7 linked regions of the Homo sapiens genome follow. The protein of the gene in region 4 purifies or fractionates together with the protein of the main gene of each other region. This does not show direct contact. Each region holds a gene or a part of one and is shown on either strand. Other genes may lie near its edges.

The links.
Region 1: the proteins of PACC1 (region 4) and DCUN1D5 purify together in Homo sapiens (affinity purification with mass spectrometry; 2 studies listed by BioGRID and IntAct, with this or other methods). This does not show direct contact.
Region 2: the proteins of PACC1 (region 4) and MZT2B purify together in Homo sapiens (co-immunoprecipitation; 3 studies listed by BioGRID and IntAct, with this or other methods). This does not show direct contact.
Region 3: the proteins of PACC1 (region 4) and MPZL1 purify together in Homo sapiens (affinity purification with mass spectrometry; 2 studies listed by BioGRID and IntAct, with this or other methods). This does not show direct contact.
Region 5: the proteins of PACC1 (region 4) and DAB2IP purify together in Homo sapiens (co-immunoprecipitation; 3 studies listed by BioGRID and IntAct, with this or other methods). This does not show direct contact.
Region 6: the proteins of PACC1 (region 4) and CDK5RAP3 purify together in Homo sapiens (affinity purification with mass spectrometry; 2 studies listed by BioGRID and IntAct, with this or other methods). This does not show direct contact.
Region 7: the proteins of PACC1 (region 4) and HEATR3 purify together in Homo sapiens (co-immunoprecipitation; 3 studies listed by BioGRID and IntAct, with this or other methods). This does not show direct contact.

What each region holds. Positions count from the first base shown.
Region 1 is NC_000011.10:103,089,361-103,093,491, forward strand, and holds the start of DCUN1D5 (DCN1-like protein 5), read right to left. Parts: upstream 2,801-4,131; 5' UTR 2,513-2,800; coding exon 2,427-2,512; exon of another isoform or gene 2,324-2,426; intron 1-2,323. UniProt on the Homo sapiens protein: Contributes to the neddylation of all cullins by transferring NEDD8 from N-terminally acetylated NEDD8-conjugating E2s enzyme to different cullin C-terminal domain-RBX complexes which is necessary for the activation of cullin-RING E3 ubiquitin ligases (CRLs).
Region 2 is NC_000002.12:130,185,262-130,188,244, forward strand, and holds part of MZT2B (mitotic-spindle organizing protein 2B), read left to right. Parts: intron 1-2,983. UniProt on the Homo sapiens protein: Required for the recruitment and the assembly of the gamma-tubulin ring complex (gTuRC) at the centrosome.
Region 3 is NC_000001.11:167,766,982-167,770,481, forward strand, and holds part of MPZL1 (myelin protein zero-like protein 1 isoform a precursor), read left to right. Parts: intron 1-3,500. UniProt on the Homo sapiens protein: Cell surface receptor, which is involved in signal transduction processes. Recruits PTPN11/SHP-2 to the cell membrane and is a putative substrate of PTPN11/SHP-2.
Region 4 is NC_000001.11:212,404,887-212,408,386, reverse strand, and holds part of PACC1 (proton-activated chloride channel), read left to right. Parts: intron 1-3,500. UniProt on the Homo sapiens protein: Chloride channel gated by pH that facilitates the entry of chloride ions into cells upon exposure to extracellular acidic pH. Involved in acidosis-induced cell death by mediating chloride influx and subsequent cell swelling.
Region 5 is NC_000009.12:121,658,134-121,661,633, forward strand, and holds part of DAB2IP (disabled homolog 2-interacting protein), read left to right. Parts: intron 1-3,500. UniProt on the Homo sapiens protein: Functions as a scaffold protein implicated in the regulation of a large spectrum of both general and specialized signaling pathways.
Region 6 is NC_000017.11:47,977,613-47,981,112, forward strand, and holds part of CDK5RAP3 (CDK5 regulatory subunit-associated protein 3), read left to right. Parts: intron 1-219; coding exon 220-298; intron 299-1,216; coding exon 1,217-1,305; intron 1,306-2,980; coding exon 2,981-3,186; intron 3,187-3,500. UniProt on the Homo sapiens protein: Substrate adapter of E3 ligase complexes mediating ufmylation, the covalent attachment of the ubiquitin-like modifier UFM1 to substrate proteins, and which is involved in various processes, such as ribosome recycling and reticulophagy (also called ER-phagy).
Region 7 is NC_000016.10:50,072,470-50,075,969, forward strand, and holds part of HEATR3 (HEAT repeat-containing protein 3), read left to right. Parts: intron 1-135; coding exon 136-245; intron 246-3,101; coding exon 3,102-3,242; intron 3,243-3,500. UniProt on the Homo sapiens protein: Plays a role in ribosome biogenesis and in nuclear import of the 60S ribosomal protein L5/large ribosomal subunit protein uL18 (RPL5). Required for proper erythrocyte maturation.

The sequences.
Region 1 (4,131 bases), on a different chromosome or scaffold from region 4:
ACTCTTAGAGAAAAACTAAGTTCAAAATTAACAACTTCCATTCACATTAAACAAAGGTTTTTTTTTTCTTCGGTTGGCATTGTTGGAAAAAAACTGAAGTTGTTAAGTAATTGCAACTTGAAACAGTAGTCTATACATAAGAATTATCGGCTAACAAAACCCAAATACCTTTTCACTCAGTATCAAAATCCAAAAATATCAGTAAGTTATTTCCGCACATTTTAAAAGACTACAAAGAAGTTCAACCTAGTAGGTGGGAAAGTATAAATATTTATTATGATTCTATTGATTTGCATAGAAATTCTATTTGTGTGTAATAGATAAATATTTGAAAACAAACTCTTACAAAGTATATTTTGATACTTAATGAATCAATATTTCAAAATAAAATGTTATATTAAGAGTTGTTTTATCACCTAAGCTTAAATAGATTTTTAAAGATAAATGATGACTTAGGACCTAAGGGTATATTAAATTACACAGATTTAAAAAAAACAACAAAAAAACACTAAAAGTTAATAATAGTCCAAATAATTGGGACAAGGCTATTTAATCCTAGGTTCTGTTCATTCTATTTCATTTTTTTCATAAAATCATTTTCATTGTTTTTCATAAAATAACTAAAATTTGGTAAGTTCAAAATGGCCTCTAGAATTTAATGGCCTTCAGAGAAACTTTTTTCAAGGAACTCAAATAATTACCCTACCACAATGATATAGAAATGATAGAACTTCTGTAACTGAGTAAAGTAAGAGTATCATATTTAAAAATTTAAATTGATAGAGCAAAGTATCACCTGAGTTCTAATAATACTGCCTGCTCAGCTATCTTAATGTACTTAACTTAAATAATTTTAATACATTATATACTTAAGATGGCCATGATATAGTACAAAAATGAATAATAATTTGCCTGTATCTTATAAAAATGTGAGCTACTAAAGTAACCATGTCAAATTCTAATGTTGACAAACAAGAGGTGTATGTATCATCGTTCACATTAATAGCCTAATACTCCATAGACTCCTTTACCAAAACACAGTAATGAGGGAAAAAAGTCGACCAATTACAAAAAAGAAGATGCAGACTATGTAAGTCATCTACCTCACAGTTTAAGCAGATCTCTCTTTAAGGAGAGCTCTATCATTATTTCCTTCTTATAATCCTGGCTACAGTCTCCTTTCAATAGTAGCATCTGAAGTTGTCATATCAAGTGCCAACCATTGATGAAAAGGCAGCTAATATGGTTATTTTTTAAAAAAGCATTTCTCAGTCGGGCGAGGTGGCTCACTCCTGTAATCCCAGCACTTTGGGAGGCCGAGGCGGGCGGATCGCGAGGTCAGGAGTTCAAGACCAGCCTAGTCAACATAGTGAAACCCCGTCTCTACTAAAAATACAAAAAATTAGCAGGGCGTGGTGGCGGGCGCCTATAATCCCAGCTACTCAGGAGGCTGAGGCAGGAGAATCGCTTGAACCCGGGAGGCGGAGGTTGCAGTAAGCGGAGATCGCGCCACTGCACTCCAGCCTGGACAACAGTGGAAGACTCCGTCTCAGAAAAACAAAACAAAACAAAAAAACAAAAAAACCATTTCTCAAACCAAAATTGCAGTTTTTTTGTAGCATAAATTTTGCTGTGATGCCTCCATGATATGCTACAAGGGGATCAAAGAGCTACTACTATATAGTTCTGCCTTGTCTTCTTTCTTACCAGTAGGACAGAGTACAAGAGCTCACAAATTATTTAATTTATGCTGAGAGCTAACAGCGTCCTGAATGCTAGAAGACAAAAAGCATGCAGGGCCTTTCCAACTCTGCACACAGGGACTTGGCATAGGTGAGGCACTATACTTCCAGAAAATGGGGCTCCTGCAATTTAAAAGGCCTCCTGCTGGGACCTTCCGGGTTAGGCCACTCCAAATACTAAATATGGAGGCCAATTATAGCATACAAGTTTTCCTTTCTACCATTCCCAAGACAGTTGTCAAGATTCCTTATGTTCTGCTTTCTTCACACTCTACAAAGAAATTCTAGAAGTGACCCTTCTGCGGATATGTACTCACTTCTAAGTCTAGAAAAAGGCAGAGGAGCGATACGGGAGTAGGGGATCGAGGGTCGGTTGTGGGGTGGGGGTGGGGGTGGGGGGAAGCGCAATTTACATATGCATCTGTTCCCCACCCTGCAGGGCACGTAGACTCTTAACGTGGGCGGCTCTTCTAGTCTCTCCATAAACGCCAGCGTGCACACACTCGAACACGAGGTCGGGTCGGGCGCGGAGACTCGCGGTGTTCGGCACCTACAGCCTAGCTCGATCAAAGGGGCCTCACCTGTCTCCAGCCCCAGCCCGGCAGGCCGGGCCCGACTCCTTTTCCTCCAGTTGTCCAGCAAAGGAGGGAGGAGGGAAGCTTGAAGGGTGGGGGGAGATGGTACCTGGAGATTTTACACTTTTTGAGGCCTCCGTCTTCCGCTACTGCTGCTGCCACCCCAGGGGATTTTCTCTTCTTCTTCACCGGCATCTTCCGCCCTCCCCGGCAGGGTGGGCAGGGGAGCCGGGGAAGGGGGTCCCTGTCCGCTGGAAGCCCCTCAGCGCTGGCACCCAGTTCCCAGAGACAGCAGCAAGCGGAGGAGCAGAGTCGCCAGCCCGCACCGGCGCGGCCCAGCCCGGCCGCCGCCCGCTCCCAGGTATCCTCGTCGTCTTTCTCTGACCGGGACAGGGCTGGCTCCTCGCCGGTGGACACTGCGGTTCGTTCTCACCGGGAGGAGATAACGCGGACAGCGCGGCAGCTCCACCAGTCACAGCAAGCAAGAGGCTCAGCCTAACCCGGAGGCGAATCGCTGAGGCCCGGAAGTGACGCAATCGCGGAGCCGGTCCCGGGAAGGGGCGTGGTTCCGGTTAGCCTCTGCCACTCGTAGGTAGGCCAGGCAGAGCGAAGCTGTCTGACCCGTCGACTGCGGCAGTCCGCGGAATTCTTGTATCCTGTCCAGGGTATCCTGACCTTTCTCATGAAGCTTCTACCGCGCTCTGATGCTGGCAGTCACCGCCAAAAAGTGAAACTACTAATACTTTGCAGTTGACGTTAAAAACAACCTGGTAAAGTAGACCAAGTTCCACTTCTGAGCTCTTCCACACGATAACCTCACCTGAAGTGTTCCCACCCCGTAAATGCATTGTCACCCTGTGTCTTGCGTGTTTTTTTTATGGGCCTGTGATCAGCCACCCACTCCCCCTTCTCCCTACCTTTGCATATCACTTTGTCCTGTATTGAAACTTAGCTCTGCCATTATTTCCACAGAGCTCACCTCTCCGATAAGAGACAGTAGGTGACTGCGACTCAGTAGAGAGAAATTTGGGGGACAGTTCTAAGGAACCTCCCCCTAGACCCAAAACACACTGTAATCTATTCATCTCCACTTAGGTGGAAATACTGTTTTTAAATAATGGTTATTGTATGTAAAGACATAGTAGAAAGTCGTTAGTAATTCTGTTGGTAAAATAATCTCTGCAAACCAACTGTGATGGGAGAAGACTAAAAGTCTTTGAGTAATAGTTGAAGTGGTTCCTGTGAAACTACCCTCACAATGGCACCCTAATCTGGTCAATCCGAATATCATATTTCCTTAGTGTTATTAATTGGTTCAGGATGGACACATACTCAGGCCAGGCCAATGAGTGCCAATGACACAAAATTGAACCACCAGAAAGCAATTTTATTTCCTATGGATTTGAACCAGAGAAGGTATGGAGAATGAAGCCAAAACTCAGAAGAGACTAGTATCAAGCAGAAAAATAGAAAAACCAGGATGTGATTATATGATATGAGCCCAAAATCCATGATATGCCCTGGAATTTTCACTTATGTGAAGCAACAAATTTCACTATTTTGCATATTTAGTTCAATTCTCTGTTACTTAAAACCAAAAGAATGTCAAAGTATATGATCCTTCAACCCATTTAAAAATGCCTGAGGCCAAAATCAAAACAGAATCAGATAAAGTCTCTAAATAGAACTACCATCTACAAAAAGTACAGGACAGAGGAACATGTTAAATACCCAATGCAATCAGCAATATCTAGACGTCAGAAAAGTCTACAGGACAATGACCCAAATTCTGCAACAAATTATTAGGACGAGAG
Region 2 (2,983 bases), on a different chromosome or scaffold from region 4:
GATCACACCACTGCACTCCAGCCTGGGGGACAGAGCGAGACTCCGTCTCAAAAAAAAAAAAAAACTAGCCAGGTGGGCATGGTGGTGGCGCCCATCTGTAGTCCCAGCTACTTGGGAGGCTGAGGTGGGAGGATCGCCTGAGCCTGAGGGGGATGTTGCCGTGAGCCAAGAGCTTGTGACTGGACTCCAGCCTGGGCAACAGAGCAAGACCCTGTCTCAAAAAAAAAAAAAAAAGAAAAACCGCTAGCAATGGAGATGGGAGGAGGCTTCAGAGCCCAGAGAGCAGCAAGGGTTACACAGGGGGGTAACAAGGGTTACAGCAGGAGGGGGGTCGGCAGAGCCCCACACGTGTGAGCTGGGGCAGTGGGAGGGCGTGGGTGAGGCAGAGCGCTGTCCAGGTGCTGGTAGGCCGGGGGCGGGAGGAGGCAGGTGGGGGGGCACGGTCAAGATGTATGTGAGGGTTGTGGCACTGGAAATGCAGGCATAGAGGGGCCAGGAGGATTAGGGGGTGCTGTGTGAGCGAATGGGGGCTCCGAGAGAATTTACCCAAGGACAGGAGTGGCCTGGAGTGCTGGGACCCTCAGGGTCATTTGTTCCTTGAGGGCTCTGTCCTGGAAGCATAGCCCAGGTCCTGTAGGCTGGGTGGCAGAAAGCCAGGACATGAGGGCACCGAGGCCCTGTGGAGATAGAGTGGAACCTGAGGAGGAGGTGGAGGGGAATGGGGCAGATGTGGGGCCACACCAGGAGTGTGCTGCTGAGTGAGAAGCAGAGGCCACAGATGGAATGCTGAGAGCTCTCTGAGGCCCACATGTTACAGCATCTGACCACACAGAGCTCCGGCTGCCCTGGTAATGGCAGAATCTGGGGTGGAGGACATAAGGGGGGTTGTTGGAGTGATCCGGCTGGGGGGCATGGAGGCCATAGGTTTCCCACAGGACTCGGGTGTGGAGTTCTCCAGGCTGTGGGCCAGGCCCTCTCAAGCTTGCCTCTGAGCTGCAGCAGGCACCCTGGGTCCTCTGGATGCCTGTCCCCCAGCCATCCAGACAGCCTGTGGGGACAACCACCACCAGATTCACTCATACCCACAGGGAAGGGGAAATAGAAAACCCCAGAAGCACAGAGGGGCAATGCTTGTCTTGGTGAGAGTCTGGAGTCATTGAGGGAAAAATAAATTCAGTCAAGCGTTCTATTTAAGTTTAGAGAAACTATACGTTTTAAAAGTTGTCCAGAGCATGCATGTAAGATGACGTTTGGAGTGTGGAAGCCATCTCACCTGAGCTGTGCTGCCTGATACAGGAACCTTGAGCCACACATGGCTGGCATGGTCATTGCACTGCGTGTGGTATGCACAGCAGATGCCAAATGACCGGTACAAAAGGGAATGCAAAAAACCCACCACACCTTGGGAGTCCACAGCTACTGGATCTCTTGAGCTCAGCAGTTCAGGACTAGCCAGGGCAACACAGGGAGACCCAATCTCTACAAAACACAAAAATTAGCAGGGCATGGTGGCACACATCTGTAGTTCCAGCTACTTGGGAGGCTGAGGTTGGAGGATTGCTTGAGCCTGGGAGGTTGAGGTTGCAGTGAGCTGTGACTGCACCACTGCACTCCAGCCTGGGTGAGAGAGTGAGACCCTGTCTCAAAAATAAACAAAAAACCCCAAAGTGAATGAGGCTGGGCATTGGTTCACACCTGTAATCCCAGCACTTTGGGAGGCTGAGGCAGGATCATCACTTGAAGCTCGGAGTTTGAGACCAGCCTGGGCAAAATAGCAAGACCCCACCCATTTCTACAAAGAAACAAGAAAAAGAACAGAGGTGAATGCAACATCTTATGAATAACTTATGTACTGATTACGTATTGAAATAATACGTTGGATATTTTAGATTAAAGTATTTGAGCTAATTCTGCATTTTCTTTTACTTTTTATTTATTTATTTATTTTTGAGACAGTCTTGTTCTGTCACCCAGGCTGGAGTGCAGTGGCACACTCATAGCTCACTGCAGCTTCAACCTCGTGGGCTCAGACAATCCTCCCACCTCCTCTTGAGTAGCTGGGACTACAGGTGCACACTACCACACGTGGCTAATTTTTTAATTTTTTGTAGAGATGGAGGTCTCACTGTGTTGTCCCAGCTGGTCTCTAGCTTCTGGCCTCAAAGGATCCTCCCGCCTTGGCCTCCCAAAGTAGTGGAATTACAGGCATGAGCCACTGACCCCTGCTGAGCCAGGCTGTTTTCAACATTCAATGGTCATTGACTATCTTTGGCGTTTAGGAGGGCCCTCCAGGGACCAGGCGTAGGGGCATCAGTCACCCCGCCCTCACACCCCAACCTGCAGCCACACTTGGTTCAATCCCACTGTCTAGCCCGTCTGACTCAGTAGCCCCTCCCGAGGGAGCAGGGCTAAGCAAAGCTGGTTTCCCCACTGCAAGGCACTGCAGGCCATTCTATTCTGGGCCTTCTCATCCTTCATAAAGTGAGGAGGCCTGAACAGGGCTCCCCACTAACCCTGAGAGCGCACAATTCCTGAAGATTTCCAGGATTTTCTTAGTATCAGTTATGGCTTAAAGTTATGTTGGTTTCACATTTCCAGGGTTTGTCAACCCTGTCAGATTTAAAGATAAGCATTATTAGCCAGGTGTGGCCCCATGCTTGTAGTCCCAGCTACATCGGAGGCTGAGGCAGGAAGATCCCTCCAGGCCGTGAGTTTGGGGCAGCAATGAACTGTGATTGCATCACTGTGCTCTAGACCAAGTGACAGAGCAAGACTCAGTCTCTAAACCCCCCTCCCCCACCACTCAAAAAAAAAAAAAAGCATTATTTGCTCTTTTCTGCTTCCCTCTCATCCTTGTTTCCAGAAGGGACTGGGTCATTGCTGAGGGGAGGAGAGGAAGCTCAGATGGCAGCAAGCTGAAGGGAAGCCGACTCTGAGTCAGGCCCAAGTCTGCGGCCTGCCATGCTGCGTGCTGTGGGGAGCT
Region 3 (3,500 bases), about 45 Mb from region 4:
TCTCTGCCCCCTTCCATGAAATTTTAATATTGTAGATATCCTCTGCAACTGTTTTACATATAAAAGAGAAAGATTTTCTCAAAGCTTCCCACCCAAGAGCCAGTGTTTGCTCCCTTGGGGGAGAATCTCCCCTATGGAGAATGCATAGTCTAGAGGTCTTTATAAGAGAGGCCTTCCCTTACAGTAGCCATAAGGGTGAGCACAGGAATCCATACAGATACCATGGAAAGACATAAAGAGGCATTCTCTGCTTCACGTAAATATGGCATCAGCATAGAACATACACTAATGTTCCCATAGAGGCAAGATTAAACACATAAGTTTACTCAAGAGAGTCCAAAGAACTATTTAAACATTTAAAGATTTCCCACTGAAGTCTTCTGCAAGAGTGGGTGTGAGAGCCACCCAGAGGTAATAACTTTCTTTTAAAGAGCGGTTCCATTTATGCTGGAAACAGTCTTGTCGTGTAGGTCCATGAAGGTTTACATAACTCAAAACTTAATATTAAGAACATGCTGTAATTCTGATTAATATTTTTAGCTAATCAATTTATACTTACACACGAGTCTGATTGCAGTTAATCCCAGCATGTTCAGTTATTGACATAGGATCCTTTAATTCCAAAATGTCGGGACACATTTAATAAGATGAGTGGGTTGCTTTTTTGTTTTTATAGGTTTTACAGGAAAAGTATATTCAAACCCAGTATATTCAAAAGCCATACTGTGGATGGCTTTTTTGGCCCATGGCCTTGGGATCCACATGTCTGAAACTGAACTCATTTTTTCTCCCTTCTGTTTCCCTTTTCTGCTTTTTTTTTTTTTTTTTTTTTTTAGGTTAATTGTGTTCATCTGCAGATGAGTTTTGTAATCATTTTGTTTTGTTTTGTTTTGTTTTGTTTTGTTTTGTTTTGTGTTTTCTGTCCTTTCCTTCCCTGTCCCTTACCACTTCCCTTCTGCCCCCAAGAAATAAGAACCTTTGCTGGTTCTTCCTACTTTGTTTCTGGTGTCTAGCTTTTTGTCAGCCTTCCTGTGTCTCTGCTGTCTATTGAGCAATGTTAACTGTGTGCCTGGTCTTGTGCAGTAGCCCCTTGTTATTCTTCTGCTTCTGTTTTTCTCATCTTTCAATCCAACCCTCATATGCCAGCAGGTGCATAGTCTTAGAACAGCTCTTTCACCTTGCCACTGCAGGTTATCAGGAACCTAGATTCCCATTGTGGACAACATTTGTCTAGAATTAAAAGCTCATTACAATTTGGCCCAGCCTACCACTTTAGCCTCACTTCTGTTCTCTTATGGCATCACTTCCAGTTTAGTAAAAATGCTTTGTGCTTTGTTTTCCTACTTCTGAACACTTGTCATTTAAGCTGTACCCCATTTTTACCCTCTGTCTCCTCCATAATGCCTCTTTTTTTTTTTTTAACCTTTTAGCCCTTAAAACTCACTACCCTTATCTGGGCCATTCCTATAATACAGATCCCTTAATATGACAGTTTTCCTCTTCTTCCTGAATATGGGTGTTTTAAGAGGACTTGCCTGTCTTACATCTTTAGTATACCTCATAGCTTTAGCACCATGGCTTGTACTTTAAAAATATTGATTGATAATGATTCTAGTCTTTTCTGTGAATTTTTCACTGTTTTATTTCCATCTCTCACTGGTTTGACCAAGACGTTATTCCTCAGTTTGATTCAGCAAACTATGTAGTTCCTGCTGTGTCCAAAGTGCTAAGGAGTACAGAGATAAATACATCTTATCCTCTGCCTTCAAATGGCCCCCATTCAATGAGGGAGCCTGACTGAGGGAGCTGTCTCAGACCCAGTGCTGAGAAACAGCATCATGTAGCTCATCCCCGCTGGTTCAGAAATGCAAGGCAGGGAATATGTGGAGATGTTGTGGGAAGGGAAGGCAGAGAGCAGGTGATGGAAGGATTCATTTGCAAAGCTGAGAGTTTATGGTTCATTTTCTAGTGAAGAAGAGAGAGTGAAGAACTTTGAACAGATAAGACATGATCTCACCTGAGAGGCCTTAAACATTGGAAATAGCATAAGCTTTGAAATCAGAGCTGAGTTTGAATTCCATCTCTAAAACCTGTGACTTTGGGAAAGTCACCAAGGTTTCCTGAGCCTCACATTCCCTATTTATGAAATATCAGGTAGGCGAATCTCACCTTGCAGGGTGGTTGTGAGGGCTAGAGAGTTGTTGGGAGACAGTTTTCTATGGGTCTTTCACGTTTTTGCACACCTTGCTAGCAAAGGCACTGGCTGCCTTTGTTCTGGACTTTTTTTATACAGTAACTAGCTTTGGAAGGCAGAGATGATGTTACCCTCTGGAGCAAAGGACAAATTTGTGTATTCTTGAGTATAGTAAAGGTAGTGTCTCCTTTCAGGGCTGAAGTCAGACATGTCTTCTGCCCCTTGTAAGAGAATAGTGTTCCCTGAGCTTGGGGTTCCTCGGCTGTGATGCAACGCCTCTGCCTGCACAACATCCATGTGAGCCCCTCCATGTCATGGCTATGGGACTTGCGGGGCAAGAGAAACAAACACATGCTTTCTGCTCATAAGGTTCTTTGTTTCTGAGTCTTCTTCATGGGAGTGAAGATTTCACAGGAGTCCGTGTCTTCTGTCAGCACCTATGAACCTGTGGCCAACTAACTTTGTTAGCTTGTAAGTAGGGTAAAATCTCAGACCCTTCACGGTTCTTAACAAGCATTTAGGTCATATGAAATGCAGGGTAAATATTTGATAAATGTTATAATAATAACCATTATTCTTTATCAGTGATCATTTAGGCATTGTGGAAGATGATGAGTTAGACATACCAGTTAAGAGGCCATAGTCCAAGATGATGAAAACATAAAAACAGATATTGTCAGTGGGAACCGAATAGAGAGAAGAGAGAACTGAGAGAAACTAATGAGACATTGACAATATTGGGGGATTAACTGGATAGGAAGAAAGAGAATCAAGGATGACTTCAAGATTTATGGTTTTGGAAAGAAACAGTAGCCATCAGTGAAGACACGATACATGAAGAGGGGAAGATGAAGTTTGTAAGAGAGGGTGACAAGCTTGGGGGAGAGGGGCAGCCAGGTGGTAAAGTGAGTAGGCAAGGAGTCTAGAGCTTAGGGGACGCTATTGATGGAGAGAGAGGTTTGGGAGTTAAGAAAATCTAGATGATCATTAAATCATAGGAATGGATGAGTCTGCACTGGGGTTTTCACCGTGCTCAAAGGGTTCTGAAAATGTTCTGTTTGAATTGCTAATAGAGCTGGTTTCTATCCCCAGCTCCACCATCACCCCGTCCATTAACCAGAACAAAGACATCAGGCCTCCAGCATAGCTGCTTGGATTAGAGCCAAGTGTGAGGATAGATCCCCTCCCACTGGGCCTTAACCCTGCTTCCAGGTGCTGAGTTTGACAAGGTTTACTTTGAGAAGACAGTTCCTTTGCTGAAAGCAGGACTGAGGAGAGACTGAGGAGTGGAAAGAGAAAGGGGCTA
Region 4 (3,500 bases):
CTCTGCCTCAAAAAAAAAAATAAAATAAAGTAAAAAAAGACTGCCTGGAAGGAAGGAGGCTGGAAGGGCAGCTAACATTTCCTGACTGCTTCTCCTGTGCCAGGATCTGTCGTACCCCATTTGCCCCATTTAATTCTCACATCAACCCTGTGAAGTGGTTATCCCCCTTTTACAGATGAGGCCCCCAACCTCAGGGAGGTTGAGTAAAGCATGGGGAGGTCATATAGCTGGTAAACACAGACTGAGTCAAACTCTGCCCAACCCTAAACTCTCTCTACTACACCAGTGGTGTTTTCTTTTTTTTTTTTTTTTTGAGATGGAGTCTCACTCTGTCACCCAGGCTGGAGTGCAGTGGCACAGTCTCGGCTCATTGCAACCTCTGCCTCCCAGGTTCAAGTGATTCTCCTGCCTCAGCCTCCCAAGTAGCTGGGACTATAGGCGTGTGCCACCACACCCAGCTACTTTTTTATTTTTAGTAGAGATGGGGTTTCACCATGTTGGCCAGGCTGGTCTCAAACCCATGACCTCAGGTGATCCGCCCACTTCAGCCTCCCAAAGTGCTGGGATTACAGGCGTGGGCCACCGCACCTGGCCTACATCAGTGGTTTATAAAAACTATTTTAAGTGGTGGTAATCCCAACACTTTGGGAGGCCAAGATGGGAGGATCTCTTGAGGCCAGGAGTTTGAGACCAGCCTTAGCAATAAAATGAGATCCTGCCTCTACCAAACAGACAAAAACCAAAAACACTCACACAAAACAATAAGCATTCTTTTATTAAAGCCCAATATGTAAAAGATAGTAGCACGGCTAATCCTCCCTCTGACATGAGGCATTGCCTCTAAAGCCCTAAGGCTCCCGGGAGAACAACTTGAAAGACCTGTATATTAGTTTTCTATTGTTTCTATAACAAATTACCAAAAACTTAGTGGCCTAAAAAAACACAAATTTATTATCTTATAGTTCTGGAGGTCAGGAGTCCAAAATGGATCTCACTGGGCTAAAATTAAGCTGTCAGCAGGCCTGAATTCCTTTCTAGGGGCTTGAGGAGAGAACTTGGTCTTTGCCTTTTCTAGCTTCTGGAGGCCTCCTGCATTCCTTGGCTTGTGGCCCCTTCCTGCAGCTTCAAAACCAGCAGTGGCTCGTCGAGTCTTTCTCACATGACATCACTCTGATGCTGACTCTCCTGCCTCCCTTTTCTGTGTTTAAAGGGCCTTTGTGATCACATCGGGCCCACCCAGGTAACCCAGGATAATCTCCCTGCTTTAAAGTCAGCTGATTAGCAACCTTAGTCCCATTTGCTGCCCTAATTCCCCTTTTCCATGCAACTTGACATATTCACAGGTTCTAAGGATTAACACTTGGACATCTTTGGGAGCCTTTATTCTGCCTACCACACCTTGCACTACCCTCTTGCCCCCAACCAGAAGTGCATAGATGGAGGCAGGAGAAAGAAGAGGAGGGAGGCCAGACTTGGAAAGATGAGGCTTGTCTTTGTGTTTCCTTTCATAGAGAAGTGCCCAGGTAAATCAGGAGGTGGCCCTAATGTCCTTGGACCTTAGCAGCCTCTCTTTTGCCTCAGATTCCTGGGGCTGCAAAGCCTGGGGTCAATCAGAATAGGAAGCCAGGCCTCAGGCAGAGCAAATTTTGGGTAGTTCCATCAACTGGCAAGAGCATTCCCACTTGCTTTGGGGTAGCCTTCCCAGTTGCTTTGGGGGAACCAGATGAGCTGGGCTCATCTCCTTTCTAAATCACAGAAGATTCAGATCTCAGGAGTCCATTTGGCTGGGTCAGTAGTGAGTTGGCTCAAATTTGATGGACTGATACACAACTCTCAGAGCTCATTTCTTGCCTCTGACTCTTCTTTTTTTTTTGAGACAGTCTCCCTGTGTCAACTAGGCTGCAGTGCAGTGGCACGATCTTGGCTCACTGCAACCACCACCTCCTGAGTTCAAGCAGTCCTCATGCCTCAGCCTCTTGAGTAGCTGGATTATAGGCACTTGCAATCATTCCTGGCTAATTTTTGTATTTTTAGTAGAGACGAGGTTTTGCCATGTTGGCCAGGCTGGTCTTGAACTCCTAACCTCAAGTGATCCACCTGCCTCAGCTTCCCAAAGTGCTGGGATTACAGGCGTGAGCCACCATGCTTGGCCCCTTTGAGTCTTCTAATAATAATAATAAAAATAATGGTAATGGTGATAGTGGTTGCCATTTTGGGGGTGCTTTCATGTACTAGGCCTGTGTAGGGCTTTAGGGCTTTTTTTTTTTTTTTTTTTTTTTTTGTGGGGTGGGACCTTGCTTTGTGGACTGGGCTACAGTACAGTGGTGTGATCATGGCTCATTTCAGCCTCCCGAGTAGTTGAGACTACAGACATGCGCCACCATACCTGGCTAATTTTTAAATTATTTTTAGAGACAAGGTCATGCAGTGTTGCCCAGGCTGGTCTCAAACTCCTGGGCTCCAGTGATCCTCCTGCCTTGACCTCCCAAAGTGCTGGAATCACAGGTGCAAGCCATTGCTCTGAGCCTATAGGGCTTTTTATATACACTTTATCCTGTAATCTTCACAGCCACTCTGTGAGGTGAACGGTTAGTCCTAGTTTATAGATGAGGAACCCAAGGCACAGACGTTAAGGAATATGCTCAGAGCTCATGAGTGGCAGGGCTCAAATCCATACCCAGAGCTGTCTCGCAAGGTGTTCTGACTCTGGCTCAGTTGTTCCTAGATGAGAGCTTTCCTGCTCCAAATTCTCCCCTCCCTGTAGCAGATCAATTAAGGACTGCTTCACTTGTTATGCCAAGTGCTGACACCACAAAGAGGGTGAGTAAGTTCCTCCAGGAACTCAGGCATATAGAGACAGAAGGCCGGTTACCCAAGGAAGAACTTGTCCCTCCTTCTGAGCCTTCCTTGACTTCCCTGATGAGGTCCCTTTCTCCCTGTGATATGCTTTCCTTTGTAACAGTTAACACAGTTGATAGGTCACATTTATTGAGTTTAATTATTCAGTTAATTGTTATCCATCCCTTGGCACTGCCCTACAAGTTCTGTGAGGCACACAGATTTTGTCTTCTCCTCCTTTACTGTAACTCCAGTGCCTAGTGTGGAGTGTAGTATGGAAGTATGACTCCATAGAAGTATGAGTACTGTAGGTACTCAGTACCTATTTGTCCTCTGGGGGAGAGCAGTGGAGATTTAGAGCAAGAGAGCCTCTCATCTAGGAGCAACTGAGCTAACTGGAATGAATGAATGAGGGCCAAAGAAATGGTAGAGTCAGGTGCTTCAAAATTAATGAAGGGGCCTGGCGTGGTGGCTCACACCTGAAGGGGCTCACACTGTGGCTCATCCCAGCACTTTGGGAGGCCAAAGCGAGCAGATCATCTGAGGTCAGGAGTTCGAGACCAGCCTGGCCAGCGTGGTGAAACCCCATCTCTACTAAAAATACCAAAAAAACTAGCCGGGGCATGGTGGCAGATGCCTGTAATCCCAGCTACTCAGGAGGC
Region 5 (3,500 bases), on a different chromosome or scaffold from region 4:
CTTGACACAAACACGCTCACATCCCAGGCTGCATACGTGTTTTGCTTTAGAAATGACATGAAGCCTTTTGACTATTTTTAAGAGAAAGGCAATGGCTGTGATATTTCCCCTGCACCTCCCTCTCGGGGCCACTTGGTTAAATGTCAGGAAAGGGAGAGTATTTCCTGGTCAGGAACATTCAGAGCTTGCTGGGAGCTGAAGTTTTGTTTTCCATTAAGTAGGTATTCGGGGAGTCTATTTCCCTCTGCCTCCTCTGTTTCCCTGGAAGCTTGCGCTTGACAGTTGCAGGGAGGAGGGGTTTGAGAATGAGCAGCCGAGATGCCCACGTATCGCGTGCCCGCTCTAGGAGTGGCGGGGTGGCTATTTTTAGCCATCCCGATTCAGTAGAGGCATTTCAGCGTTTGTTCAATATTTAATTATCCATCTGAAATTGGCCCATGTGGCCTTCAGTTTGGAAGCAGCTCTCTGTGCTGTGATTTCCCAGTTGCATAAATAAGGAAGCAAGGGAATCTCAATAGCCCTCCAAATAATAATAACGAGAAAAAAAAGTAGACTCGATACTCAGCAAAGACAGGCTTGGTTCCTCGGTCTAGACAGACCACCTGTATGTTAGCAGAGAAGCACCACCGAGGACGCCCATCACGCCCTTGGAAATGCGGCGGTGCTCAGTCTCCGAATCTCAGATCCACAACTGCCTGGGTTTTATTGGGGATGGGTTTTCCTCCCTTCGCCAGGTTCCTGTGTTGACTTTGACAGCTGCTGGGTACCTGAGAGGTGGTTTGGGGATTTTGCTTTTGGAAGCCTTGTTAGCTTTTATTTCCCTCTTCTCTTCTCCCTGACAGACAGGAGAGTACTATCGGCATCTGGGCTGTGCTATTTCTTTTTCCTTGGCCTTTGGAGGCGATGTGCCGACATAGTTGTGAAATGAAAAAAGGCAGAGCACAGGGAGGGAGATGTTGGGGCCATGAGGCTCTGCCTTCCTTCCCCAAGCCCCTGGCTGATGAGGGAGAGAGGGGAGAAGAGGAGAGAGTGGGGCCCAAGGGTGCTGGGCAGTCGGAGATGACTCCTTCCTACTGTCCTGCTTGGCATGGAGATTTGTGGACTTTGGGTTCGGAGACTGGAAACCAATAAATTGGTAATCTGGAATAAGCTTGGTTTTTCTATCCATTTACACCTCTATTCTGGGGACACAGAGTTTGGCCTAGGAGCGTGTACAGAGTCCTGACTAGGTCATAAATGCTGTGTGACTGCAGACAAGTCACTGAACATCTCTGGGCTCAGAAGCACATGTAACAGATAGATATGATGCAGCATAGGGTGTCATTATAGGCCAGGAGAATTGTCATTATTAGCTGTTCACCCAAAGTCTGAGGGGTTGCTTGCAAATCAGTTAGGGCTGATCTAGAAAGAAAACGTTTGGGAGGCCGAGGTGGGCGGATCACGAGGTCAGGAGATCGAGACCATCCTGGCTAACACGGTGAAACCCCGTCTCTACTAAAAATACAAAAAAATTAGCCGGGCGTGGTGGCAGGCTCCTGTAGTCCCAGCTACTTGGGAGGCTGAGGCAGGAGAATGGCATGAACCCGGGAGGCTGAGCTTGCAGTGAGCCGAGATCGCGCCACTGCACTCCAGCCTGGGTGACAGAGCGAGATTCCGTCTCAAAAAAAGAAAAAAGAAAAGAAAAAGAAAGAAAACGTGATGCCAGTGGGGACTGGACCCACCTAGGTGGTTTCTCGGCATCCCTACCCTGAGAGGCTGCCACAGGTCTCACTGGTACTTGTTCAGAGCAGCAGAGCTTTAGCGAGCCACCTAGTATGTGTGACCTGGGTGCCAGGGGCTGCCACAGCAGATATAGCCAGCCCCCGCCCTCGGGAGCTCAGAGGCCAAGGGGAAGAGTCTTGGCATAAGGTTAGCAGATGGTGTGACTGGAAAGGTAGGCAGGGCCTTGAGTGGTGAGCAAAGAGGGGAGAACAGCCCCTGGCAGACCACTGGGAATCAAAGGAAGGATTTTGAAAATAACAGGAATGATAACAGTGATCTCCATGTCTTGAGCACTTACACAGCACCAGGGGTTCTTCTAAGTCCTTTACATGCATCCTGCCTTAAATCATCATTCTCCCAGGTGGTGTTATCAGCTCCACTTTCTAGATGAGAAAACTGAGGCTCAGACTGGTTAAGTGACTTGCTGAGCATCACCCAGCTACTGAGTGGCAGAGTCCAGGATGTTTAACCCTCACTATACTTACCAGAGCTGTGATTTAGGAAAAGAACTCTTAACAACCCTCAAGCTAGACTGGTATGGTGCAGGGAGAAGAAAGTGGGAAGAGGGAGCAGGGAGGCCAGTCCGCTTCCTGGGGAATTTTGAAGGAGGCCGGCAGGTGCAGGATGGGGGAAGGCAGAGGGCAGGTGGAGAGGAGCTGGGAAGTTTGGAAGGGCTGACACAGGAGAGAGGATGCCGCCATCTGAGGGCCAGTGCTGGGCTCCTGCCACGATCTCTCCCTGGCCTGCGGTGAAATGAGGACTGTAAGGGCATTGCAGCGAGTTTCCCATAACATCCATTTCACTTCAGTAACCCATTTTGATGCCTCTTTTTTATTCTGAGATGATGGTCTTTGGATTCTTTGGGGTTAGAACATTCCTTTTATGCAATACATAAATGTCTAGTATGCACCATACTAAATGGTGTTCTTTTTTTTAAACATCTATATTTGGCAAGAAAAGAAGTCAGTGGTTCTGTGTGGCCCACCCTCATATTATGCTACTTCATAGTTTTCATTTATAGACATTGAACTAGTTCCTGGAATTCTCACAGGATGGTAGGCTGACACCCACGAAGGAGAAGTCCAGGGGTCGTCCTTACAGCGAGAGGAGTGGGAGCTGGTGGTGGGATAAGGTGGTGGGATAAGGCCCTTGGAAAGGCGTGAAGAAGCGGGAGGATGAGGGTCATTGAGGGCTGGGGTGGGGGATGCCCGGCAGGCTGTGGACATGGCTGATGGGCCTGCCTTGGATGCTGATGCTGCAGGGGTTTTGGCACAAGACTGGGCAAGGGGCTTTTCAGGGAGCAGCTTCAGGAGAAGGCGAGAAAGGTGCTGGAGCCTGCAGGGGATCGATTATTTGGGGGAGAGGAGGTGTGGGGTGCAGAATAGGACAGGATTGGAGAAGTTTGGTGAAAATGGGGGTGCAAGAGAAGCTTGGATTTCCCATTAACTGTCAATACAGTCATGGTTCCACCTGGTATCTAGAAACCTGTTCACAATTGTAGGTTTAGCAGCACACAGGGTGGGGTAAGTGTCTCTCCCCATCAGGAGCAGCCTCTGAACTCTCCTGGGACCCTGAGCTTCAGGGAACCCAGGCTGTGGCCCCCCTCCCCCACTTTGGCAATGCTGTCTGCAGAGGGAAGGGCCGGTTTTACTAGCACAGGGAGTGCTCCGGCTCCTGTGTGTCGGGGAAATTCTGGAAGAGGCTCTCTTCCAGAAGTTATGGAAGGTCCCCGGGAGACA
Region 6 (3,500 bases), on a different chromosome or scaffold from region 4:
GGTGTTTGGTACAGGGTGTAGGGGTAAAGGCAGGTGGGAACACTACAGAGCAGGGATGATGGGCCATACTGCCATTTTTGGCACCTAAGTCAGGGCTGCAAATCCTTAATAGAGTTGGAATGTGCAGCCATTGACCTCATCAAGGGCTTTGGTTTATTCTGGCTCCTTGGCTCAGGAAAATTCTCCCCCCATTGCTGTGGTTCTTTGCTCTCCTTCCAGGATCCTGGAGGTGATGGGATAGACTGGGGAGACGATGCTGTTGCTTTGCAGATCACAGTGCTGGAAGCAGGAACCCAGGGTAAGTGCACCATCCCCTGCAGCCCTGGCAAAAGTGGGGTGCTCAAGGGCCCCCACGTGTCTAGAAACAAAAAATGCAGCGCTAAGATGAGGCTTCTTGCACATTTAACTGTTTCTCAAAACCTTGATGAGGATGTGAGCTGAGGGGGACCAAGAGAGGTTTTTTTTTTTTTTTTGGAGACGGAGTTTCGCTCTTGTTGCCCAGGCTGGAGTGCAATGGCATGATCTCAGCTCGCTGCAACCTCCACCTCCTGGGTTCAAGCTATTCTCCTGCCTCAGCCTCCCGAGTAGCTGGGATTACAGGCATGCACCACCACGCACAGCTAATTTTATATTTTTTTAGTAGAGTTGGGGTTTCTCCATGTTGGTCAGGCTGGTCTCGAACTCTTGACCTCAGGTGATCCACCTGCCTCGGCCTCCCAAATGCTGGGATTATAGGTGTGAGCCACCGTGCCTGGCCCAAGAGAGGTTCTTAAAAGTTGAGAGTTTAGAAACTCTCAACTTTTTAGAGACCACATGTGGGCCAGCTGTTATGGTAGGAGGGCTCTAGGGGGATCGGGGCCCTGGAGTGTGACATGACCCCCGCCCCAACAGCAGAGAAGACGTAGTGGTGTCTGAGCCACTAGAGGGCGGTGCAGGATGAAACTTTACCTCCTGCGGTCCACCAGAGCAGAGAGCCGGCCTTTCTACCCCTCTGAACCCAGCTCTGGTCCTCCTCTCAGTCTGGGAGTTGGAAAGTGGTACCTGATTAGAGCTGAGACACCTGGGACAAGGTAGCCTTCCCCCTTGGATTAGAACAAGAAGTGGCTTTAGCACAGTGAGTCTGTCCGTATTAATCCTCCAGGGCTTCTCACACTTGAGGGTCTTTTCCTTCTCCAGTCCTCTGATCCTTTATCACTTCTCTGTCTCTTCCTGGCAGCTCCAGAAGGTGTTGCCAGGGGCCCAGATGCCCTGACACTGCTTGAATACACTGAGACCCGGAATCAGTTCCTTGATGAGCTCATGGAGGTACTGTCATCTCTGGAAGATGCAGGGGGGAGGCATGGCACCAGCACAGGTGGCTTCACTCCAGATGCCTGACCTGACCCCTCCTGTTTGTGTGAAGGGTGTGAGTGCTATTTGTGTCCTACAGCAGGAGCCTCACGTATTAGATGCCTCCTATTCATCCAGTTACTTATCAGGTACCTCCTAGGCACCTGGCACTACCTTAGGCACCAGAACTTGGGTGGTGAATAAGACAGTCAAAGTCCTTGACCTCATGGAGCTTATATTCTAATGGGGAATGCAGACTGGAAAGAAGATAAATAAATAAAATATGCAGGATGCTAGATGGCACCAAATGCCACGGAGAAAGAGAAAGTAGGGGAGGATGACGAGGATGTTGGAAAGGGCTATGGTTTTGTATCTGGTGGTCAGGGAAGGCCTCATTGAGAAGGTGACCTGTAATCAAGACTGCAGGCGGTGCAGAGAGAACCATGCAGATGTCTGGCAGAAGGGCTTCCCAGGCAGAGAGAGCAAGTGCAGAGGTCCCGAGGTGGGAGCAGACCTTGCACAGTTGACCAGCAACATGGAGGCTGGTGTGGCTGAGGAGAGAGAGCTGGTGGGGAGTAGAAGAGCTCAGAGATGTAGCGTCTGAACCTTGGTTTGCCTCTGAGTGAACTGGGAAGCTGTTGGAGGTTTCGAGCAGGTTAGGAACATGATCTCATTTGTGTTTAAGGACGATCCCTGTGGCTAAGGTGTTGAGCAGCCCAGCGTAAGGAGCCAGCGTTCTTGGACCTTTGTTGTAAGGCTGGGAGGACGGGGTCCTGTCTTTGTTAATCTCTGTATCTGCTCCCTTCCCAGTAGCCTGCTGGTTCGGAGAGCCTCCTGAAAGTTCTGTCCTCACCCAGTTCTCTCCTCTTTCTGCCCAGAGGCTCCTCCCAGCCTCAAGGGGAGAGGACAAAAGATATCTGTGAAGTTTTAACGGCAGAATAGGATTGATAAGTTAATATGGCTGGCTCTTGTATTCTTTTCAGCCTTGCCTTAATCCAGTGCTTCTCAAACATGTATTTCTGTTCCCTGAATCTCATTCCTCCCATGGAGACAAAATAAATACCTTCCCTGGGCAGAGAGAACCCTTTGAGTCTCTGTATTCTCAGTTATCTGATCCCAGGCTGGGGAGAAAGGACAGAGGTCTGGGGTTAGGATGAGATAGGAGGTGGGGACTGAAGGGTGACAGTAGTCTCTCCTAGCGCTTACAGTGTTCAGAGGAAACTCCTTACCCAGAGTCTAGCCCTCATGTCTCATTTTTGCATTTCGAGTAGTCCGAGGGCTTAGATTCTGAGTTCTTCTCTCAGTTTGAACCAATTTATCTTCTTTTTTTCTTTCTTCCTTTTTTTTTAAAAAGAGTTTCTCTGTCGCCCAGTCTGGAGTGCAGTGCAGCAATCATAGCTCACTATAACCTCAAACTCCTGGGCTCAAGTGATCCTCCCGCCTCAGCCTCCTGAGTAGCTGGGACTACAGGCATACACCACCATGTTTGGCTAATTTTAAACATTTCTGTAGAGACAGGGTCTCATCGTTTCCCAGGCTGGTCTTGAACTCCTGGCCTCAAGCGATCCTCCTGCCTTGGCCTCCCACAGTGCTGGAATTGCAAGTGTGAGCCATCATGTACAGCCTGAACCAATCTTTCTTCTGTCCTCAGCTTGAGATCTTCTTAGCCCAGAGAGCAGTGGAGTTGAGTGAGGAGGCAGATGTCCTGTCTGTGAGCCAGTTCCAGCTGGCTCCAGCCATCCTGCAGGGCCAGACCAAAGAGAAGATGGTTACCATGGTGTCAGTGCTGGAGGATCTGATTGGCAAGCTTACCAGTCTTCAGCTGCAACACCTGTTTATGATCCTGGCCTCACCAAGGTCTGGCTTCCCCTTGATGCAAGGCTCTGCCATCTTGAGCAGCTCTGCCTCCTTGTATTCCTCCTCTTGTTCCATGACCCCTTAAACCCCATCCCTGCCTCCTGGCCATTGCCATCCACTGGGGATAGGGGTTCTCTTTGGGACAAGAGGGGGAGGTTTCACATATACAGGAAGAATCTGCTTGCTTCCTGAGTAGGACAGGGGAACTGGGAGTGGGTTTTCCTTAAAAGGAAAGGGTTTAAGGATGTGAGGGTAAGCGGCCAGTTGGGGGTTTGGTTTCCCGAGCCTCTCACCTCCCCAGCAGCTGAATGGGA
Region 7 (3,500 bases), on a different chromosome or scaffold from region 4:
TCGATAAAAATGGTGGGTGTTTGATTCCAACTCCTTGGTTTATAAAGCCTCGTTTGTTTTTTTATGGATTGCTATGGTTGATTTCCTACTGTTAAAATGTGAATAGTAAAACTTTTTTTTCCCCCTTCAATTTAGTGAATGCAGTAGTAGAGCAGTGTCTATATTCAACAAAGAAGGGTGTTTGGAGATTGTGTTAAAGTATTTAAGTAGGTTTCCTACCAATGTTGACCTGGCTATTTCAGTAGGTAAGTGAAGAAAAGGTGATGACTTATTAAGAATGTGTAGCCTTATTCAAAAATTTTTATGCAGCTTTGGCGTGTTTATTCCACTGGAGTGATTTTTTGTTTCGTTGTATGTGAATGTGTAGCTCAGCACCTGTTTTTTCTGGGTCTTAAATCTGTGATTAATATTAATTCTTTACCTACTCATTCAGTTTTTCTGCTTTTGACTCTGAAAGGGAGAAAGGTAATTATGTGAGGATATGTGGTTTCTAGCCTGTTTCCATTCTTAGCAGCCTTTATTAATTCTTGAAGTTTTCATCTCCATTTACTAAGAAACAGTAACGCACAACTACCAGGCCTTTAAGCCAGTTAATTGGAATCTAAACTTATTTAAATGTATTGTGCTACTATCTCATACGTCCAGCAGAAAACTGACGGCCTGAGTTTTGTTGAGAGAAAAAGAGGAAAAGAAATGATTGAAATTCCACTTAGGCCTTCATGCCTTCCATGAGACAGGGAAGGCAAAGTCCAGCAACTTCAGTGGCTTTGGCTGCCTCGCCTTCTCTTTATTGGGCTGGGGAACCACTGGGGACCCTCAGCTCAGTGGCAGGAGGCAGAAGTCAGAGCATAGGCAACTCAGCAGAATTCTGGGTGGGAGTGGAGAAACAATTGAGGGAGAGCATTTCTTTTCTACCGATCATTACTGCGGGCATCCAGCTGTCCCTTTGTGGAACTGCATTTCTCCTGGGGAGGAAGAAGTGTATTCCCCTGACTGCTGTTTTTCTTGACTCTAATGGATATTTTTAAGAGAACAGAATTGAGGGAAAATAGTAGAATAAATACTACTGAGAAAATTTTAAAAATCATTTCTCTAAATGGAATCTTGGTGGGGCTGGAGAGTTGTGAGTAAATGGGGATTTTAAAAACGATTCAGCCATTTTTAGGAAATTGATAGGTGACTTAATCTCAGAGGACAGTTTTTGTTACAATAAGAGAACTTCAGGAAAGTTAGTTCATATCTTTTACAAGAAAAATCACTTCTATTTTTGTGCCTTTAGTCTTATAGATTTATTTCTGTTTTTAGTTTTTCTTCCCCTTAATGAGCGTTTTTGAAATGGATTAGAATAGTCATTTTGCATTGTATAATAGTGTTTTCCTTCTCCATGTAGCTAGATTAATGATTTTTTAAAATACATTATTACTTTTGCTTCTAAAGTCAAGCAATGCTTACATATAGTAAAATGAACTTATAAGATTCCATCCCATGTATTCATATAACTTTTTTTGAACCTGTATGGTAGCAGTCATGGCTGTTGGCTAAAGTAAATTTAATTAGTTTCTTAATGACAAAGATATTACATTTGGATATATGTACAGAAATGCATATATGTGGATTTCCATATAAATGTATCATCAACCACAGCAGTAGCATGCATTTTGAGTAATTTTGATGGGCATGATTTAATATTTTACACATCTCTTAATTTGCTCATACTTTTATATAAACTACTTTTTTTCTTAAAGAGCTATTGCTCTGCCAGAAATAACCCTAACTTTGAAGGTCATGATAAATTTAAAGGAAGCCAGACGTCCCAAAACCTAAGGCTGTTTGCTACTGGTCCTTGATAAGTACATAAATTGAGGGTAAAATTTTTTTTTTTTTTTTGAGATGGAGTCTCAGCTCTGTCACCCAGGCTGGAGTGCAGTGGCGCAATCTCGACTTACTACAACCTCCGCCTCCCGGGTTCAAGCTATCCTCTTGCCTCAGCCTCCCAAGTAGCTGGGATTACAGGCGTGCATCACCATGCCTAGCTAATTTTTGTGTTTTCAGTAGAGATGGGGTTTTGCCATGCTGGCCAGGCTGGTCTGCAACTCCTGACCTCAAGTGATCCTCCTGCCTCAGCCTCCCAAAGTGCTGGGATTACGGGCATGAGCCACCGCACCCGGCCTGAGGATAAACTTTTATAAACATTTATAGTAACGACATTGCCGCATTTAAGAGTCTTTTTAGGCTGGGCGTGGTAGCTCACACCTGTAATCCCAGCACTTTGGGAGGCTGAGGCGGGCGGATCACAAGGTCAGGAGATCGAGACCATCCTGGCTGACAAGGTGAAGCCCCATCTCTACTAAAAATACAACAAATTAGCCAAGCATGGTGGCGGGTGCCTGTAGTCCCAGCTACTCGGGAGCCTGAGGCAGGAGAATGGTGTGAACCCAGGAGGCGGAGCTTGCAGTGAGCCAAGATTGTGCCACTGCACTCTAGCCTGGGCGACAGAGCGAGACTCCATCTCAAAAAAAAAATAAAAGAGTCTTTTTAATTGTATTTTGTAAAAAGTGTAGATCTGGCTGGGCATGGTGGCTCATGCCTGTAATCCCAGCACTTTGAAGGGCCGAAACGGACAGATCACTTGAGACCAGGAGTTCCAGACCAGCCTGGCTTTCATGGTGAAACCCTGTCTCTACTAAAAATATAGAAATTAGCCAGGCATCATGGCGCATACCTTTAATTCCAGTTACCTGAGAGACTGAGGCACAGGAATCGTTTGAACCTGGGAGGCAGAGGTTGTAGTGAGCTGAGATGCGCCACTGCATTCCAGCCTGGGTGACAGAGCAAGACTGTCTCAAAAAAAAAAAAAAAAAGTATAGATCTGTACAGGATTAGAAATTTAAAAAGAAAAGAAACATGATCTTTTCCAGCACTGATAGTTTGGGAAGCCTCATTTGCGCATATCACCCTGAGATAAAGCATATATATTTTGCAAAACCTACATGTGTCTAATGAAGTGGTAATGATACAATGTTTTATTGATGAGTTATACTGGTGTAAATTATCCAAAGCAGAATTCATTTGTTTCTAAATACTTATTTTTTGCCTCGTAGCATATTGTTTGCAGACAGTGACTGAGGATAACCCAGAGCTGCTGAAGTCTTTCAGTGCTACAGCATTGAACATGCTGGAATCAGCACTGCTTTCTCCTGTCAGTTCCATGGAATCTCTTCTATTGAAGACATTGGTAGCAGGTAAAATTTAGCCTTACGGCATAGTATATTGTTTCAGTAGCTTTTGGTATGGATGTGGTGGGGGCAAAATTTAGTCATTCATTTCAACACATTAGGTCTTCTGTGCTTTTATCTGTTCTGAAAATTTTAATATCTGAGAAGAGACCCTTACTTCAAGCAGTTGTCTATAGTTGTAAATCCTTGTAGAATAGATTTGTTTCGAATTTAACAAACTACTGTTAACCTGATAAAGAGATGCTGTTGTCAGGATCCCCACTT